Homo sapiens: one gene and its partners. The protein of the gene in region 4 interacts with the protein of the main gene of each other region in a pairwise test. Each region holds a gene or a part of one and is shown on either strand. Other genes may lie near its edges.

Region 1 (5,088 bases), about 75 Mb from region 4:
GATGAAAAAGGAGGTATTACAACTGATACCACAGAAATTCAGAGGATCATTAGAGACTAGTATGAAAAGCAATCTGACAGTAGCTGTCAGAATTTAAAATGGACTTAGCCTGACTTTCCAATACCATTTTTAGTAAACCATTCTTCAGAAATACGTGTGAACAAAGATGTTGTTCAAGGATGTTCACTGGAGTATTTGTGATAATGAAAATTAGGAGTAGCCTAAGTGCCCGTCAATACAGGAGTAATTAAATTTTGGAGCACCACAAAATGGAATACTTAAATGGTTGAGTTACAAATATGTGTATTTGCTAAGAAAACAGTACCATTAGACATTAAAGTTTTAAAAACATGAAATCACAGACCAATACGTGTAGTACGATTTTGTGTCTATATCAATATGTGTATGAATGCACTGATGCAAATAAGGGAGATAAGAACTCACACCCACTTGTTAAGAATGGTTACCTTAGGCGTAGGTAGAAGATGAAGGAATGAAATGGGACTTGTGCTTTTGTTCAGCATACATTTGTATTTTTGAATCCTTAACAATGCAAATGTATTCATGAATTCTGATGTAATTTTGAACACAATAAAGGCAAAGGAAAAGTGGGTAGAAGATGGCTTATGGGAATAATGAATTGCCTCTTGGTTTTACGTGTTGCTATTCTGTTAATTTGCATGAGAGCAGACTTACAGATATAAAATATTAATCCCCTCAAGCACTATCCACTTGGTCTTTTCTAAAGACCCTCTTGAGCAAAAGAGGAAGCAAAGGGCTCATTGAAGTCAAGCCCCACAGGGACCATAAACTCCTCACTGAAAAGTTCACATGCAATTCTATAGGGACTCAAAAGGTTCGGAATTAATTGTTATCACAGGTGCAGCAACAAGCTTCCCGATTAAAGATGCCAAATTATACTGCATGAGAAAGTTTATTGTTTTGAGAACGTTTACTTCTGAGCCAGAGTTGTTCACTAGTTTATTTTGCCAAAAGTTGTTAGCTGTGGGGAGAGAGGATTGGCTACTACTATATAGTCTTCAAAGACACCTAATTGACTTTTCTTGTGTTGGGAAGGTGCTAGAACAGACTTAAGAAACATTGAGAAGAAGCTGGCCTTCGACATGGCTACCAATGCTGCCTGTGCATCTCTCCTGAAAAAGAAACAGGGAACAGGTATTTGTTTTAAATTCTTCTTTCTCCTCTGGTGCCCCATAACTAAGATTTATTAACTTAGAATGGCGCAAAAGAGATAAACTCAGCTGAGTGCAGTGGCTTATACCTGTAATCCCAGCACTTTGGGAGGCCAAGGCAGGAGGTTCACTTGAGCCCAGGAGTTGGAGACCAGCCTGAGCAATAAAGTGAGACCTCTGTCTCTACAAAAAGTACCAAAAATTAGTCAGACATTGTGGTGTGGGCCTGTAGTCCCAGCTACTCAGGAGGCTGAGCTGGGGGATCACTTGAGCCCTGGGAGGTTGAGGCTGCAGTGAGCTGTGATCGCACCACTGCATTCCAGCCTGGGTGAGAGCAAGACCATATCTCAAAAAAAGAAAACCAAAAAAAAAAAAAAAAAAAAAAAAAAAGATAAACTCTTCAGATGATTCTGAAGTTTGTTTCAATATCCTTGATCTTAATGAGAACCCCCAAAATAGGACACCCTCAATTAAACAGAAATTAGACAAGAAACATAATCTTTTACCTTTATTGTGTGTTTCTTTTATTCCTTGCAATTAAGTTCTAATCACCCTGCTTTCCATTACAGTCCTTTTCAGAGAACGATCATCTTCATTCCCTCATTTAAATATGTATTTATGAGTGATTACCACTAAATATTTTTAAAAATAACATTTAATAGCTCCATGATTATATTTTATTTCTGTTTTAAATGAGGATATCAGTAAACTGTAATCAAATTTATTCTAGACTTTGCTAAATCTTCTGGACTTTATTCATAGTATTATGGGTGGTTTTTTAAAATAGAGTTTAAATGTACATTATTATTATTTTTTTAGATGGAGTCTTACTCTGTTGCTCAGCCTGGAGTGCAGGTGTGCAATCATAGCTCACTGCAGCCTCAAACTCCTAGGCTCACGTGATCCTCCCATCTCAGCTTCCTGAGAAAATGGGACTACAGGCATGTGTCATCATGCCCAGCTAATTTTTTTTTTAATGTAGAGATAGGGGTCTTGCCATGTTGTCCAGGTTGGTCTCGAACTCATGGACTCAAGCCATCCTCCTGCCTCAGCCTCCCAAAGCACTGGGATTACAGGCGAGAGCCGCTGTGCCCAGCCTCCTTTTGTTCTTTATTCTAGATATGTCTTTGTTCCAGATTTCTTTTCTTTTTTTAACTTCAGTTTGAATATAGTGTAACTGCTAATCAGTTGGTATTCCTTAATTAATCCATGAGAGCTCACTGGGAGTGCAAGCCTTTCTTTAAAGTAATTCCTCATGGATAGATGGAGATGGGTTCTACTAAGGGAATGGGAAAGTATCAGCTGAGCTGGTGCTCCCCAGCTACATTATGATTGAGAAGCCATATTTGCAATAGTGTGAGAGACATACTTCTGCTTGAGTTCGACCTCCTACTCCTTGCTGCCTTGATTGGGTCAGGAAGTAGGAGTCTGGCCTAACTTCCTTTCTCTGCCACTGACTTCCTGTTGTGTGGCTACCCTTAGCCTGTCCTGACCGAAGAGTAAGGCTTCTTATGACCTGAAGGTATCAGAGTCTAATGCATGCTATGAGCTCCATTTTGATAGACAAGGCATATACCAAACTTTCTTAGACCTCAGAGAGCTTACCCAGAAGCCTTACTCAGGAGTGGTTTGAGTTGAGGGAGGCAGGTAATGAGCCTTTCTGCAGCCTTCGTAGAACAGGGCTGGGAGGCAGGTACTCTTTTCTCTGTGCACCCCAAGTGTGTTTAGTCTACCTTCCTGAATTTGAACTGATTAGGTAATAGATTCATTAATGAGGTAATCTTAGGGCCTGGCAGACAGAGCCAAGAAATGAGTTTTTATATTTCAATTTTCATGTTACTTTTAAAATGTTTTTTCTTGCTTCATTTCCCCAATTATACAGTTAATTTGTATTGTGATCCTCATTGGAATAGGTTTGGACTATTTGGCCATAGAGTTAATTGTCAGCATGAACTCTAAGTTGGAAAAGGTATATTCTGATATTGTTGTCCACTTTTTTTTTTTTTTTGAGACAGAGTCTCACTCTGTTGCCCAGGCTGGAGTGAAGTGACACAATCTCAGTTCACTGCAACCTCCGCCTCCCGGGCTCAAGTGATTCTCCTGCCTCAGCCTCCTGAGTAGCTGGGATTACAGGCATGAGCCACGATGCCCGGCTAATTTTTGTATTTTTATCAGAGATGGGGTTTCACCTTTTTTGTCCAGGCTGGTCTCGAACTCCTGACCTCAAGCGATCTGCCTGCCTTGGCCTCCCAAGGTAGTTGTTGTCTACTTTTAGAAGCACAATGTGGATTTTTTAATAAGTACAAAAATTCACATTTTGCAGTTACTATGGAAGATAACTAGGATATAGGGCTGGGGGTTATACTCGAGTTGAGCCCTTTAACATTTTTTTCCAACTTTTAAAAATTTGTGTATAATTTACATTAAGTAAGTACATAAATCTTAAGCATACAGCTTGATTAATTTTTTTTACACCTGTTCACCACAACCCAGATGAAGCTAGAGAACAGTTCCCACACGCCACATGCCTCCCTCAGTGTCTTCTGCTTCTCTCACCATAGATTAGTTCTGCCCGTTCGTGAACTTTATGTAAATGGAATCAAACAGTATGTACTTTTTGTGACTGACCTCTTTCATTTACATTATGTCTGTGAGAGTCATCCATATGCCTGTGTTTATTTCTCCATCATTTATTTATTGTTTGTATGTTTGTTGGTTGGTTTTAAGTGCTGGTTCTTGATTTGAGATATGTAAAGCCAGGGTGATGGGACTGAGGTAAAATGAACGTGAGCTAGGGAAGGATGGCAGTGCTGCAGGAAGATACATTCCTATGCGTGCTATGCCCAGAGGTGGGCTGTGAAGAGATACAGGCTCATCACACAACACCTGACCATGTGGGAAAACTGCCTCAGAACAGTTCATGAAAGGAAAGAAGGAGAAGGAATTTATTTGCTGACTTGTGCCTGTCTTTTGATGACCACTCAGTCAGAGTCTGCACTGTGGCAAATCATCCTCTCTTTTTAATAGAAGTAAGAATAAAATAAAGAGCAGAAGTAACCATCCAAGGACACAGAATATGGGCAAAACTTAGGATAGTGGAGTAGAAGGGGACAGAGTTTTCCTATTTGTCTCTCAGGCTTTAGCTTAGAAAGCTACATTTTACCAAGTTGACATGAAGTCCTGAAGGTCCTGGGTGTGTGTTGGGGGAGAACAAAATATATTCCTCCCACTTCTTGTGAACTCCTCTTGAGGAGAGTGGAGAAGAATAGAGTCAACCTGGAGACTTCCAGTAGCTTGAAGGCTGGTGTGAAGTCAGTGAAACATGGCCAGGTGTGGCGGCTCACACCTGTAATCCCAGCACTTTGGGAGGCAGGGAGGATTGCTTGCATCTGGGAGTTCAAGACTAGCCTGGACAACATAGTGAGATGACGTCTTTACAAAAAAAATTAAAAACTAGCTGAGTGTGGTGCTGCATGCCTGTAGTCTTAGCTACTTGGGAGGCTGAGGTGGGAGGATCACTTGAGTCCAGAAAGTCAAGGCTGCAGTGAGCCATGATTGTACCACTGCACTGCAGCCTGGGTGACAGAATGAGATCCAGAAAAGAGACTTGGCCTCTGTTCTGCTTTATCTTTCCTTCTCTCTCTTGCAAGATAAATCGGCTTCCACCTCCCTTGTACTGATCATCCCTTCTTCTTTTCTTTTTCTCAATAATCATTTTCCAAAACATGTAAACATGAAAACTTTTTTTTTTAAAAGAGCATTAGCATACCTAAAAAATAATTCCTTAATATTCCTTAATATCATCAAATATCTTGTCCTTGTCCAAACTTCCATTTTCTCATACATCTTTGTTTTTACTTATTTATTTACTTATGGTTTATTTAAGTCAGGATTC
Region 2 (5,095 bases), on a different chromosome or scaffold from region 4:
AGGCGGGTGGGTCCTTTGAGCCCAGGAGTTCAAGACCAGCCTGGGTAACATGGCAAAACCCCATCTCTACAAAAAACTCAAAAATTAGCTAGGTGTGGTGGTGTGCACCTGTAGTCCCAACTACTTGGGAGGCTGAGGTAGGAGAATCACTTCAGCCCAGCAGGCAGGGGTTGCAGTGAGCCAAGATCACGGCACTGCACTCTAGCTTAGGTGACAGAGCAAGACCCTGTCTCAAAAAACAAACAAAAAAAAATTGTTCAACAATGTCATTTCTTTACATGTTAGAAATGGTCAGGAAGAATCTTAGAGATGATTTATGATTTAGTCCAATGTACAATTCCAGACAGTATACTGAGATCACCCTGTAAGTCTTAATAACATTACTAGATCAATCTAGAAGCCAGTTGCTATCCTCTGGCATCTTCTATGTACTAGGAAAAACACTAGAACTCCCACTGAAGATAATGTAACAGTAAGATAGTATAAGCAGTATTGTAGTCTCCTTTTTCTTTATTTTACTTAGGAAATATAGAGTAAGCACTCTACTCACAGTGAAAAGACATAAAGGAATCTCAAAACTTCAGAGAAATGAAAACCAGTTCCTTCTCACAAAACAGTTTGGGAAACCCTAATATGATCCAACTCTTTCATTTATGGACAAAGATAATGCCCAAGATGAAATTATTTGTCCAGTTAATTAGGCAGGAACAAGACTAGAGTCAGTGTTTCTTCTGATAAACTATATTTTCATTACTGAATGTAGAACTTGTACACAGGCTACTTTACAAGAGTTGAATCTCCAAAAGCAATGGGAAAAAATGTCTTTAGTATTACTCTTATCTACAGTATAAGAGTAATAATACTGAACTGAAAAATTAGAGATTACTAAAGATTATACTTAAAAGTTGTGTATCTACAGAAATAATTCACAAGATTATATGAGTTCTGGATTATTTTCACATTCTATAATTCTGCGTGGTTACAAAAACTTACTGGATAAGAAGCTGCTGCTTGGAAAAGTTTGAGTAGAAAAAAAAGAGTCCATGTCAATTTTGGCATTTAGTCTGCTCATAAGACTAATCGTTGCTAATATTCATTTCAAAAATATTTCTTCGTGTAATGTGTACCCGCCACGATGGTCGTGTGCAATCAGTACAACAGAAAATTTAGCTCAATAAATTATAGGTTACTGAGCTCTAGTCACTTAAAAACTTTTAATAGTTAATTTCAGTATTACATGTTTTTTTTTAGGACATTACCTTTATTTATGACTTAGGTGAAACATGAAACACAGGAGACCAGACTGTTCCAAACCTAAGAACAAGGCTTATTTAAAACAAAACAAAACAAACAAACAAAAAAAAAGAAAAACAAACAAATATACGGAAATCACCAACTATAAATCATATGCTAAAACCAAATAAAATGCCAGTATATCCATACATTAAAAATAACCAAATTCCTTGAAACTTACCTTTCCTTAACCCTTTAATAATAATCTACCCTAACTTTTCCTCCCTGCTCTGAATCTCTATAACACACTTTCTATAATTCATACTGCACTTCTTTATATTATCTATATTGTTTTTATGCAGACAAGCATTAATTATATCTCAAACTAGACAGTAGGTTCCTTTGAGGAGAAGAGACTTTACAGTATCTAGCACTATATAGGTTGGCATGTACTTTTGGCAGACATCACCCTATGATTCAACTGGAGTGAGAAGGATGATGTGTACTGATGCCAGGGAGAGTAAGACATAAATTACACATATAGAGTCAGCATCTAAGAGGTTGCTGTCTGGACAAAGGGGCTAGTATAATTTTGATTTTCTAATACTAAAAACAAAACTAAGGTATAATTCTCAACAGTACAATACTTAAATGAAAAAAAGGATGCACAATTCATTATGATCAAGATGAAATATTAAGTATAAATACTACTCTATTTAACATCAGAATTTGTAGGTAATAATCCAGAAACGACATGCTGAAGATATGGTCATTCACTAAAAAGCAGTGTTGACATTGTGTGCATGCTCCTCGTGACGATAATCCTCGAAAACCCGTGTTACCACTTCTACCTTCCTTCGCAGCATGCCTATAGGAGAAAAAGTCACACAATCATTAATCTAAGGCCAAAATATCCCATGAACATAATTTACGTATTCCTTTCAACACATGATTAACAAAATTTTACATAGCAATTTCAATAGCTTTACGTTTTAGAAAACACATAAGAAAAAAACACTCATCTATCTGTTTGGAAACTGTGCAAACAATGGACAAGACTTTTTTTTTTTTCTGCTCTCCCTAGCTTTCAGGCAAATAACTGTCTAGTTGACATTTATGTTTTGTTAGGATGAGGTGTTAACTGCTTTTTGACTCATTATACCCTAAAAGTGACATACAGGGTAGTCATTAAATTGGGAGTATAGGTTTTGGTGGGTCTTAGCTACCTATAAGCAAATGAGCGCACTGAGTATATTTACATTTCTGTTCTTTTCCAATAATGATTTATTTAACTTGGTGGTTCTTAAATTTTCTCAGGGGCAGAGTACCACAGAATACCATTAATTTTATCATATGAAACAGTAACTTTCTGCTAGTAAAACTAAGCTGTTGAAGTAAGCATGATACTCTGAGTTTTTCTATTAACATGCACAAATAAACTTTGTCATTTCTTTTAGTGTTCATTAATGGTTACTCATGAATAAGCCATAACTGGTGCCCAAGAAGAAAAACAATTTACAAGAGAAACACTAAAAAATTTAAACGATATACAGTTGACTCTTGGAAAACATAGGTTTAAACTGCGCAAGTTCACTATACGTGAATTTTCTTCCACTTCTGCCACACTTGAGACAAGACCACCCTCTCCTCTTCCTCCTCACCCTGTTCAACATGAAGATGAAGAGAATGAAGAACTTTATGATGATCCAATTCCACTTAATAACTGGTAAATGTTTCTTTTCTTCCTTATGATTTTCTTAACAACATTTTCTTTTTCTCTAGCTTACTTTATCATAAGAATACAGTATATAATAATACATATAACATGCAAAATACGTGTTAATTGACTATGTTAGTGGTAAGGCTTCCATCAACAGTAGGCTATTAGTAGTTAAGTTTTGGGGAGTCGAAAGTTATATTTGGTTTTTTACTGTGTAGGGATTAGCACCCCTAAACCCTTCATTGTTGAAGGGCCAGCTGTAATATACTTTAATTTTCTTCACCCAATCAGAAAAACCCTAATGTTACCCAGTTTTTAAAGTGTAATACCTCATTTTATCTTATAAAGACATTCTGCAAGATCATGCTTTAAGGACAGTGATTTCAATGCTGGCTGTCTATAAAAGGCCAGAAAAACATTATGTTCAACCTGGCAAACTATATCTCCTTTTTGTTGTAATAACTAACTGCGGGGTGCAATTTTTTCACCTAAATAACAGTTTTTAATATGATGGAAGCACAGATGAGCACTACAACAAACCATTAACTTGAGATCAGAAGTGTCAACATAGGCACATTCTAGTAATTTGCTGATTGATACATATTAAATGCAAAGGGGTACATTTATAATGATTTTAAAAATCAATAAACTGTCAAGAAATACAAGTCAGCATTCTTAAGAAAGCCTTACTATTAGCATTTTGTCATGTCTTCTAATTGAATTCCCAGGACTATTTCTGTATTAACATACTTTAAATTTTTTAGGACTTTCATTCTTTAAGGGCAAAAACTGCACCTAGGTACTTAATGCCCAGAATTTTGGTCCCATGACAAGCATCAGTGATTGACTGGTTCCTGCCAGCATATTAAATATGGCATACACATATTGACATTATTAAAAAATAATTGTTCTAAACAATATGAAAATAAGAAAACAATTTCATTCACAATAGCATCAAAAAGAATTATAATACTTAGGAATAAACTTAACAAATGAAGTATAAGACCTGTACACTGACAACAAAAAAACATTGCTAAGAAAAACTAAAGAATATCTAAATAAGTGGAGATATATTCCATGTTCATGGATTAAAAGACTCACTATTGTTAAGATGGCAATTCTCCACAAGTTGATCTACAGATTCAATGTAATCCCTATGAAAATTCTAGCAGGCTCTTTTTATAGAAATAGACAAGCTTAATTTAAATGTATATGGAGAGGCAAAGGATCCAGAAAAAAACAATCTTGAAAAATAAGAACAAACTGTAGGATTTAACACTATCTAATTTTAAAACTTAATCAAGTAATCAAGACAGCATGATATGGGCAATAATAGCCATAGAGATCAATGAAACAGAAACAAAGTCCAGAAATAAAACCTTATAAGGTACCAAGGCAATTCAATGGTAGAAATCATAATCTTTTTCAACAAATGGCTCTGGGACAACTGGATATCTACATCCAAATGAAATCAAACCCCCACCTTTAACTATATACAAAAATCAACTCAAGATGGATTATCAATCTAAATGTAAGTGCTAAAACTATATTTTAAAAAACAACAAGAGGCTGGGTGCTGTGCCTCATGCCTGTAATCCCAGCACTTTGGGGGGCCGAGGCAAGAGGATCACCTGAGGTCAGGAGTTCGAGACCAGCCTGGCCAACCTTGTGAAACCCTGTATCTACTAAAAATACAAAAATTAGCCAGGTGTGGTGGCAGGAGCCTGTAATCCCAGCTACTCAAGAGGCTGAGGCAGGAGAATCGCTTGAACCCAGGAGGTGGAGGTTGCAGTGAGCTGAGATTGTGCCATTGCACTCCAGTCTGGGTGACGAGAGAAACTCTGTCTCAAAAAAAAAAAACCAAGAAATGTCCATCAACTGATGAATGGATAAACAAAATATGGTATGACTGTACAATGAAATGATACACAGCAATAACAGGAATTAAGTACTGATACATGTTACAACATAGATGAACCTTGAAAATATTATGCTAAATGAAAGAAACCAGACACAAAAGGCCACATATAATATGATTCAATCTACATAAACTCTCCAGAAAAGGCAAATCTATAAAGACAGAAAGTAGATTAGTGGTTGCATGGGGTTTGGGATAGAAATGGGGAATAACTGCAAATGGCC
Region 3 (5,578 bases), on a different chromosome or scaffold from region 4:
AACTTATCCTTCATCCTCGATCTCCATTCCCATCTCTCTCCCCTTTCCTCTCATTTTCTCCCACATCTTTTCCTCTCATTTTCTCCCACATCTTTTCTTGTCATCTCCTCTCCATCCTCCTTCTTCACTTCCATCTCCTCTTCTGCTCCCACTTCCACACACCTAACATAAGGACTTCAAGGCAGAGTCTGTGTTCTCTAGATCCCCAATGCCACATCTAGCTTTGTGCCACTTAATTCTTATGCTAAGACTCCTCTTTTGAGGCAAATGCCATCCAATGGCCCCTCACCACATACACTCCCCTCTGCCTCATCATCCAAAAACCTTGACAATGGCTCACAGCCCACTTCCCTCCTGTCTCCTGCCATCATGAGAAACTTCACGCCTTTATAGATGGTACATTTAATGTCACAGACAGATAGTTCCTGACCTCCTACTCTCTTGCCTTTCAGGTCCAATCCACTTCTGACTTCTTGTTCCAGTGACTGTTGGTCCACTCCCATGACTACTCTGTGGACTTTGGTGACACCTGGAGTTGTGCCTACTTTAAAATTCTAAATTCTGGTTTCCACTATCCAATTTTAGCCTGTCATCCTTCACCTTTATCAATCTCCTCCTCACACTCCGCCTGCTCCATGACCTCATAAGGATACCCAATGACTCACCCTCTGCCCTTTTCTTCAGTCCATCTGTCCCTCTGGTTTTACTTTCTTCTTGCTATATGATCATACAGTCAATCGCCTCAATTGTTTTCTCAAGAACACCAGAAATTTCTTTGCCACTATTTCCTTCTTCTGGACCTGTCTTCAAATCCCAAAACCCACATCAATCTGATCATCATCCTTTCTATTCCTGCACCAGGATTACTTCCAAATATGCAGTTGAACATCATTATAAATGAGAGCTGGACCCTCCAATTTTCTTTTACTCATTGCTAGTCAAGTATTTTTCCAGTTCAGTATACATATTCTAAACAGTCATTCTTGCTATCAGTCACCTTCATCTGGAACATTCTGGCAACCCCTCAAATCCAGTTGGTCCAAACCTAAACTCAGTGTCTTCCTCCTCCTCTATTCCCCATCTCAGTGAATATTATGAGTTCCCAGAATCTAAAATTAATTACCTAAGAGTTATCCCCAATTCTGCCTTATTCCCTACTCTCCAAATTCAATCATATTACCATATGCTCTCAAAGCCATCTTCTCTGCATCCCCACTGCCTTCATCCTTCTCACCTGGACCATTATTCCAACCTTGTAATTGACCACCTTGTTTCATTTCAACCTGATCATTTTGCCCTCTGCTTTTTACTTAGGATTCATTACAAACTCTTTAGACCAGCACAGAAAGCTAACCATGATCCAGCCCCTGTCTGGACCTGACAATAGATTTCTTAAAGATTGTAATCACGCATTTTTCACTTCTGCATTTAGTTAACACTATGTCTTTCATTTTAGCACTTAGCATAGAGCACCAAACATCATAACCATGCTATTTTAAACAAAATAATAGGTCAATATTTGTGTCATTGTCCAAGATAATAAATAGATGTTATAATCATGGTAAGAACAGAGATGTCACTAGCCTCTGTTTTCTAAATAACACATTTTTTTCTGGTGGGATAAAATATCTGTTTCTGTAATTAGCAGTCCTTTATACCCCTCCATGGTAATTGAGACCCTACTGTACCTCACAGAACTCTATCATAATCTTACTTAACTTTATAAAAAATTTGATAATACCTGGCGCCAGATAATGACAGTATATGCCTAGGGTCTAGATGAAAGGAAAGGATTACTCACTCAAAATTAGAAGTTAAATTAATAAACTTAATATAGAACAAACCCTATTATATTTAAGATAAGAAATAGCCCAAAGCAACACCGAGGGATGTTAGACATTAATTATTTTTAAAATCACCCAATTATACATAATTTTATGCTAATCTAAGTGATGCCATTTTGCTTTTGGCATGTATAACTCAAATAGGAACGCCCCAATAATGATATATAAAAACCCAAAGAAATTATCAGTGCATGATATTCTGTTCTCTTGGGACATTACAGTTTTGCATAGACAAGGTGAACATTTCTCAAAACACCATGTCTCTCCAATTTTCTAATGGATCCAGGCATGTTTGCTTAAGGTCTGGAGCTGGATCTGTCAGACCCCTCAATGGAGGTGCAGGCTTTGCAGGCAGCAGTGCATGTGGTGGCTCTGTTGCTGGAAGTGAATTTTCCTGTGCCTTGGGAGGGGGCTTGGGCAGTGTTCCTGGTGGGAGCCATGCTGGTGGTGCCCTTGGAAATGCTGCTTGTATTGGCTTTGCTGGAAGCGAAGGGGGACTCCTCTCTGGAAATGAGAAGGTGACCATGCAAAATCTTAATGACCGCTTGGCATCCTACCTGGATAATGTGCGAGCTCTGGAGGAGGCAAATGCTGAATTAGAGAGAAAAATCAAGGGTTGGTATGAAAAATACGGACCTGGATCTTGCCGTGGACTTGATCATGACTATAGCAGATATCACCTAACAATTGAGGATCTTAAGAATAAGGTGAGAAATCACAGATTTGGAACTAACCCAAGTATTTAAAACTAAGAAATACCTAACAAAAGACATACAATAAGAAATGCTTCATGACTGTTATAACTTGTATTTATTTATTTAGATAAACAATTCTTCCTACTATTCAAAAATGGGCCCTTTGATTCATGAATTTTAATGTAGTTAAAATGTTATTAGTTCCATTGTTTATGTTGAAGTACATTCATAGGCATATGAATAAAAAAGTATTGTAGTTCTAAATTTAGGGGAATATATGAGAATAAATAAAACCATGTCTTTAATTTTTAAAAGTTAAACTTGAAACATTTTGATTATTACATAAGGAGGTGAAATTTTTATGCAAAAACTTGAGTAACCTTTTTCATTTCCTGAAATAATGAATCACATAAAAGCATACTTACTTGTTGTGTTCTCTGTTTTGGTTTATTCTAGATTATCTCCTCCACTACTACTAATGCTAATGTCATTCTGCAGATTGATAATGCCAGACTGGCTGCTGATGATTTCAGGCTAAAGTAAGTGACAGAAGAAAATCCTGCTCTAGAAAAAAGTTTCTATTTATTTAATTTGTTAAATAAAATTTCTATTTCATCCCAAGTAGAATGAACTATCACCTAAAAGATAAAAGGAAGCAAAGGATTTGTATTATAATGTTACAATCAACTTATACATAGTTATTATATTCCTGGGACAAAATATCAATATATTTCTCTGCCTGCCTAGAATACTGCCAAGCACAAAGTAGATGCTCAGTAAATCATTAGTCAACTAAGGAAAAACGTTAACTAAAATAAAATTCCAAAATGGTGTATTTTTATTTAACTAGGTTATGCTATTGGAATTTGTGTGATGAAATAACTTCCAATTATCCTGTACAGAATTGAGTGGGGGTAATGCAGGAGCGCTTTCTTCATATATTTTTATACTATTTACAGTCCTAATTCAATTTCTAATTTTCAGTTTAAAGCAATTGGGATTGAATATTTCTGTTTCTTGGGGTAGTCTTACTGGCACTGAAATTCACTTAAATGCCCCCCAAGGTATGAAAATGAGCTCACCCTTCACCAAAACGTAGAGGCCGACATCAACGGATTACGGCGAGTCCTGGACGAGCTGACGCTCTGCAGGACCGACCAGGAGCTGCAATATGAGTCTCTGAGTGAGGAGATGACATATCTCAAAAAGAACCACGAAGAGGTAGGAGAAGCTTTACCTGTAGTCCAATCACAACTCTGTACATTTTAAATACTGGGCAGGGGTTGGGGGTTAAAATCACAATAGTAATTCAGGTTCATTGTTATAATTTGCCAACGGATACAGACAGATTAGTCTAATAATACTACCTACTACGAGGGGATGTTAAAAGGCTTCAATGAATTAATACATATCACACGCTCAGAACAGTGCCTGGCCTATAATAATCACTCAATAAATGACAGCGGTCATCCCTAGGATGAATGCCTATGAGGGCCAGGATTTCAGGATTTTTTCTACTGTTCTATTCCCATCAACCTGACATTTAGTCAGTAACTATATGTTGAGTAACTCTCCGGTCTTTAAATCCCTTTCTCATTTAAAAGAATAAATTACTTCTCTTGGGGTGCTATGACTGTTTTTGGTGGTGGTGGTAATTTTAATTAACAGGTCCCTAATTTTTTTTGTTTGTTTTCTATTGCTTTGTTTTGAGACAGAGTCTCGCTCTGTGGCCAGGCTGGAGTGCAGTGGCGCAATCTCAGCTCACTGCAACCTCCACCTCCCAGGTTCAAGCAATTCTCCTGCCTCAGCCTCTGGAGTAGCTGGGACTACAGGCGCACACCACCAAGCCTGGCTAATTTTTGTATTTTTAGTAGAGATGGGTTTTCGCCATGTTGGCCAGGCTGGTCTGGAACTCTTGGCTTCAAGTGATCCGCCCGCCTCAGCCTCCCAAAGTGCTGGGATTACAGGAGTGAGCCACCTCGCCCGGTCAACAGTTCACTAATTAAATAGATGATTGGCATGAATATGGACCGAATATGTCAATTAAAAAATTGTGTGCCATAAATTATACACCTGACCGCAAACTTTGAGACATAAAGTAACACGTTTGAGAACTTCTCAGACTGAGTGTGAACCTGCAATGCCCCTAAAGCCACACTCTTGCTTCTCTCCAGGAGATGAAGGCTCTGCAGTGCGCGGCTGGGGGCAACGTGAACGTGGAGATGAACGCGGCCCCGGGGGTAGACCTCGCGGTTTTGTTGAACAACATGCGAGCGGAGTACGAAGCCCTTGCAGAGCAGAACCGCAAGGACGCGGAGGCCTGGTTCAATGAGAAGGTGAGGTGGGCCCCGTCTCCCTGCTCACACCTCCCCGGGGGTGGGGACTCCGTGTGACCCTTTTTCCCGGCCCTACAGAGCGCCTCGCTGCAGCAACAGATCTCCCACGACTCAGGCGCAGCCACTTTCGCCCGGAGCCAGCTCACCGAGATGAGGCGCACCCTGCAGACCCTGGAGATCCAGCTGCAGTCCCTGATGGCCACGGTAGGTGACAGCGAAGGTCAGCCTGGATCCTGTGATTCTAGAAAGCCTCCGAGAAACACTTCCCTCTGCCCTTCCTTCTTTTTTCCTATTATACCTTTGCCTGCAAATACTTAGCAGAGAGAGTGGAGGAGAGCAGGAAAAAACAGATGCATAGACACTCAAAAGAGAGCTTTTTCTTCCTCCTTGACATCACTGGGAGTTTCCTTCCTGGCTGATGCTTAGTGCTCATTTCATGAAAATAGACATTTCACATAGATCCTTTCTCAGGGTAATTCAGCTTAGGTCCGCAAAACAAACAGCAGCAATATTGCTGCACCAGAAAATTAGCCACAGGTCTATGATCAGGGGTGTGGGGCTAGTGTCCCACAGGGCAGGGAGCCAGCATCACACCAGCATCTCCTGATACTGATGAAGACATATTAGAAGCCACATGTGGTTTCACCAGGCAGAGGAAGAGAGGGTACACACCTGAATGCCACATGGGCACTGTCAGGCTCTT
Region 4 (4,310 bases):
TCAGCAGGTCTGGCTTTGGCCCTGGGAGAGCAGGTGGAAGATCAGGCAGGCCATCGCTGCCACAGAACCCAGTGGATTGGCCTAGGTGGGATCTCTGAGCTCAACAAGCCCTCTCTGGGTGGTAGGTGCAGAGAGGGGAGGGGCAGAGCCGCAGGCACAGCCAAGAGGGCTGAAGAAATGGTAGAACGGAGCAGCTGGTGATGTGTGGGCCCACCGGCCCCAGGCTCCTGTCTCCCCCCAGGTGTGTGGTGATGCCAGGCATGCCCTTCCCCAGCATCAGGTCTCCAGAGCTGCAGAAGACGACGGCCGACTTGGATCACAATCTTGTGAGTGTCCCCAGTGTTGCAGAGGTGAGAGGAGAGTAGACAGTGAGTGGGAGTGGCGTCGCCCCTAGGGCTCTACTGGGCCGGCGTCTCCTGTCTCCTGGAGAGGCTTCGATGCCCCTCCACTCCCTCTTGATATTCCCTGTGATGTCATCTGGAGCCCTGCTGCTTGCAGTGGCCTATAAAGCCTCCTGGTCTGGCTCCAAGGCCTGGCAGAGTCTTTCCCAGGGAAAGCTACAAGCAGCAAACAGTCCGCATGGGTCATCCCCTTCACTCCCAGCTCAGAGCCCAGGCCAGGGGCCCCCAAGAAAGGCTCTGGTGGAGAACCTGTGCATGAAGGCTGTCAACCAGTCCATAGGCAAGCCTGGCTGCCTCCAGCTGGGTGGACAGACAGGGGCTGGAGAAGGGGAGAAGAGGAAAGGGGGGTTGCCTGCCCTGTCTCCTACCTGAGGCTGAGGAAGGAGAAGGGGATGCACTGTTGGGGAGGCAGCTGTAACTCAAAGCCTTAGCCTCTGTTCCCACGAAGGCAGGGCCATCAGGCACCAAAGGGATTCTGCCAGCATAGTGCTCCTGGATTAGTGATACACCCGGCACCCTGTCCTGGACAAGCTGTTGGCCTGGATCTGAGCCCTCGTGGAGGTCAAAGCCACCTTTGGTTCTGCCATTGCTGCTGTGTGGAAGTTCACTCCTGCCTTTTCCTTTCCCTAGAGCCTCCACCACCCCGAGATCACATTTCTCACTGCCTTTTGTCTGCCCAGTTTCACCAGAAGTAGGCCTCTTCCTGACAGGCAGCTGCACCACTGCCTGGCGCTGCGCCCTTCCTTTGCTCTGCCCGCTGGAGACGGTGTTTGTCATGGGCCTGATCTGCAGGGATCCTGCTACAAAGGTGAAACCCAGAAGAGTGTGGAGTCCAGAGTGTTGCCAGGACCCAGGCACAGGCATTAGTGCCCGTTGGAGAAAACAGGGGAACCCCGAAGAAATGGTGGGTCCTGGCCATCCGTGAGATCTTCCCAGGGCAGCTCCCCTCTGTGGAATCCAATCTGTCTTCCATCCTGTGTGGCCGAGGGCCAGGCTTCTCACTGGGCCTCTGCAGGAGGCTGCCATTTGTCCTGCCCACCTTCTTAGAAGGGAGACGGAGCAGACCCATCTGCTACTGCCCTTTCTATAATAACTAAAGTTAGCTGCCCTGGACTATTCACCCCCTAGTCTCAATTTAAAAAGATCCCCATGGCCACAGGGCCCCTGCCTGGGGGCTTGTCACCTCCCCCACCTTCTTCCTGAGTCACTCCTGCAGCCTTGCTCCCTAACCTGCCCCACAGCCTTGCCTGGATTTCTATCTCCCTGGCTTGGTGCCAGTTCCTCCAAGTCGATGGCACCTCCCTCCCTCTCAACCACTTGAGCAAACTCCAAGACATCTTCTACCCCAACACCAGCAATTGTGCCAAGGGCCATTAGGCTCTCAGCATGACTATTTTTAGAGACCCTGTGTCTGTCACTGAAACCTTTTTTGTGGGAAACTATTCCTCCCATCTGCAACAGCTGCCCCTGCTGACTGCCCTTCTCTCCTCCCTCTCATCCCAGAGAAACAAGTCAGCTGGGAGCTTCTGCCCCCACTGCCTAGGGACCAACAGGGGCAGGAGGCAGTCACTGACCCCGAGACGTTTGCATCCTGCACAGCTAGAGATCCTTTATTAAAAGCACACTGTTGGTTTCTGCTCAGTTCTTTATTGATTGGTGTGCCGTTTTCTCTGGAAGCCTCTTAAGAACACAGTGGCGCAGGCTGGGTGGAGCCGTCCCCCCATGAAGTACAGGCAGACAAGTCCCCGCCCCAGCTGTGTGGCCTCAAGCCAGCCTTCCGCTCCTTGAAGCTGGTCTCCACACACTGCTGGTTCCGTCACCCCCTCCCAGGGAAGCAGGTCTGAGCAGCTTGTCCTGGCTGTGTCCATGTCAGAGCAACGGCCCAAGTCTGGGTCTGGGGGGGAAGGTGTCATGGAGCCCCCTACGATTCCCAGTCGTCCTCGTCCTCCTCTGCCTGTGGCTGCTGCGGTGGCGGCAAAGGAGGGATGGAGTCTGACACGCGGACAAAGGCTCCTCCGGGCCCCTCACCAGCCCCAGGTCCTTTCCCAGAGATGCCTGGAGGGAAAAGGCTGAGTGAGGGTGGTTGGTGGGAAACCCTGGTTCCCCCAGCCCCCGGAGACTTAAATACAGGAAGAAAAAGGCAGGACAGAATTACAATGTGCCGGCCCAGGGTGGGCAGCGGCCCTGCCTCCTACCCTTGCGCCTCATGACCAGCTTGTTGAAGAGATCCGACATCAAGTGCCCACCTTGGCTCGTGGCTCTCACTGCAACGGGAAAGCCACAGACTGGGGTGAAGAGTTCAGTCACATGCGACCGGTGGCTCCCTGTCCCCACCCCCATGACACTCCCCAGCCCTCCAAGGCCACTGTGTTTCCTAGTTAGCTCAGAGCCTCAGTCGATGCCTGACCCAGCACCGGGCACTGATGAGAAAGTGGCTGTTTGAGGAGCCACCTCCCAGCCACCTCGGGGACAGGGCCAGGGTGTGCAGCACCACTGTACGATGGGGAAACTGGCCCAGAGAGGTGAGGCAGCTTGCCTGGGGTCACAGAGCAAGGCAAAAGCAGCGCTGGGTACAAGCTCAAAACCATAGTGCCCAGGGCACTGCCGCTGCAGGCGCAGGCATCGCATCACACCAGTGTCTGCGTTCACAGCAGGCATCATCAGTAGCCTCCAGAGGCCTCAGGTCCAGTCTCTAAAAATATCTCAGGAGGCTGCAGTGGCTGACCATTGCCTTGGACCGCTCTTGGCAGTCGAAGAAGATTCTCCTGTCACAGTTTGAGCTGGGTGAGCTTAGAGAGGAAAGCTCCACTATGGCTCCCAAACCAGGAAGGAGCCATAGCCCAGGCAGGAGGGCTGAGGACCTCTGGTGGCGGCCCAGGGCTTCCAGCATGTGCCCTAGGGGAAGCAGGGGCCAGCTGGCAGGAGCAGGGGGTGGGCAGAAAGCACCCGGTGGACTCAGGGCTGGAGGGGAGGAGGCGATCTTGCCCAAGGCCCTCCAACCGCAGGCTCCAGGGCCCGCTCACCTTGCTCCTGCTCCTTCTGCTGCTGCTTCTCCAGCTTTCGCTCCTTCATGCTGCGCAGCTTGGCCTTGCCGATGCCCCCAGCTTGGCGGATGGACTCTAGCAGAGTGGCCCAGCCACCGGAGGGGTCGACCACTTCCCTGGGAGCTCCCTGGACTGGAGCCGGGAGGTGGGGAACAGGGCAAGGAGGAAAGGCTGCTCAGGCAGGGCTGGGGAAGCTTACTGTGTCCAAGAGCCTGCTGGGAGGGAAGTCACCTCCCCTCAAACGAGGAGCCCCGCGCTGGGGAGGCCGGACCTTTGGAGACTGTGTGGGGCCCGGGCACTGACTTCGGCAACCACCTGAGCGCGGGCATCCTGTGTGCAGATACTCCCTGCTTCCTCTCTAGCCCTCACCCTGCAGAGCTGGACCCCTGAGCTAGCCATGCTCTGACAGTCTCAGTTGCACACATGAGCCAGCAGAGGGGTTTTGTGCCACTTCTGGATGCTAGGGTTACACTGGGAGATACAGCAGTGAAGCTGAAATGAAAAATGTGTTGCTGTAGTTTGTTATTAGACCCCTTCTTTCCATTGGTTTAATTAGGAATGAGGAACCCAGAGCCTCACTTGTTCAGGCTCCCTCTGCCCTAGAAGTGAGAAGTCCAGAGCTCTACAGTTTGAAAGCCACTATTTTATGAACCAAGTAGAACAAGATATTTGAAATGGAAACTATTCAAAAAATTGAGAATTTCTGACCACTTAACAAACCCACAGAAAATCCACCCGAGTGCACTGAGCACGCCAGAAATCAGGTGGCCTCAAAGAGCTGCTCCCACCTGAAGGAGATGCGCTGCTGCTGCTGTCGTCCTGCCTGGCGCCTTGGCCTACAGGGGCCGCGGTTGAGGGTGGGAGT

Evidence for each region.
Region 1: the proteins of WASHC1 (region 4) and OSTF1 interact in a two-hybrid assay, tested with the Homo sapiens proteins (one large-scale study listed by BioGRID).
Region 2: the proteins of WASHC1 (region 4) and NUP62CL interact in a two-hybrid assay, tested with the Homo sapiens proteins (one large-scale study listed by BioGRID).
Region 3: the proteins of WASHC1 (region 4) and KRT28 interact in a two-hybrid assay, tested with the Homo sapiens proteins (one large-scale study listed by BioGRID).

Annotation. Positions count from the first base shown.
Region 1 is NC_000009.12:75,139,757-75,144,844, forward strand, and holds part of OSTF1 (osteoclast-stimulating factor 1), read left to right. Parts: intron 1-1,077; coding exon 1,078-1,176; intron 1,177-5,088.
Region 2 is NC_000023.11:107,122,232-107,127,326, forward strand, and holds the end of NUP62CL (nucleoporin-62 C-terminal-like protein), read right to left. Parts: intron 2,102-5,095; coding exon of another isoform or gene 1,915-2,101; 3' UTR 1,196-1,914; downstream 1-1,195.
Region 3 is NC_000017.11:40,796,417-40,801,994, reverse strand, and holds the start of KRT28 (keratin, type I cytoskeletal 28), read left to right. Parts: upstream 1-2,035; 5' UTR 2,036-2,101; coding exon 2,102-2,551; intron 2,552-2,995; coding exon 2,996-3,078; intron 3,079-3,603; coding exon 3,604-3,760; intron 3,761-4,713; coding exon 4,714-4,875; intron 4,876-4,953; coding exon 4,954-5,079; intron 5,080-5,578. UniProt on the Homo sapiens protein: Essential for the proper assembly of types I and II keratin protein complexes and the formation of keratin intermediate filaments in the inner root sheath (irs).
Region 4 is NC_000009.12:12,485-16,794, forward strand, and holds the end of WASHC1 (WASH complex subunit 1), read right to left. Parts: coding exon 4,234-4,310; intron 3,578-4,233; coding exon 3,425-3,577; intron 2,666-3,424; coding exon 2,597-2,665; intron 2,457-2,596; coding exon 2,323-2,456; 3' UTR 2,029-2,322; downstream 1-2,028. UniProt on the Homo sapiens protein: Acts as a component of the WASH core complex that functions as a nucleation-promoting factor (NPF) at the surface of endosomes, where it recruits and activates the Arp2/3 complex to induce actin polymerization, playing a key role in the fission of tubules that serve as transport intermediates during endosome sorting.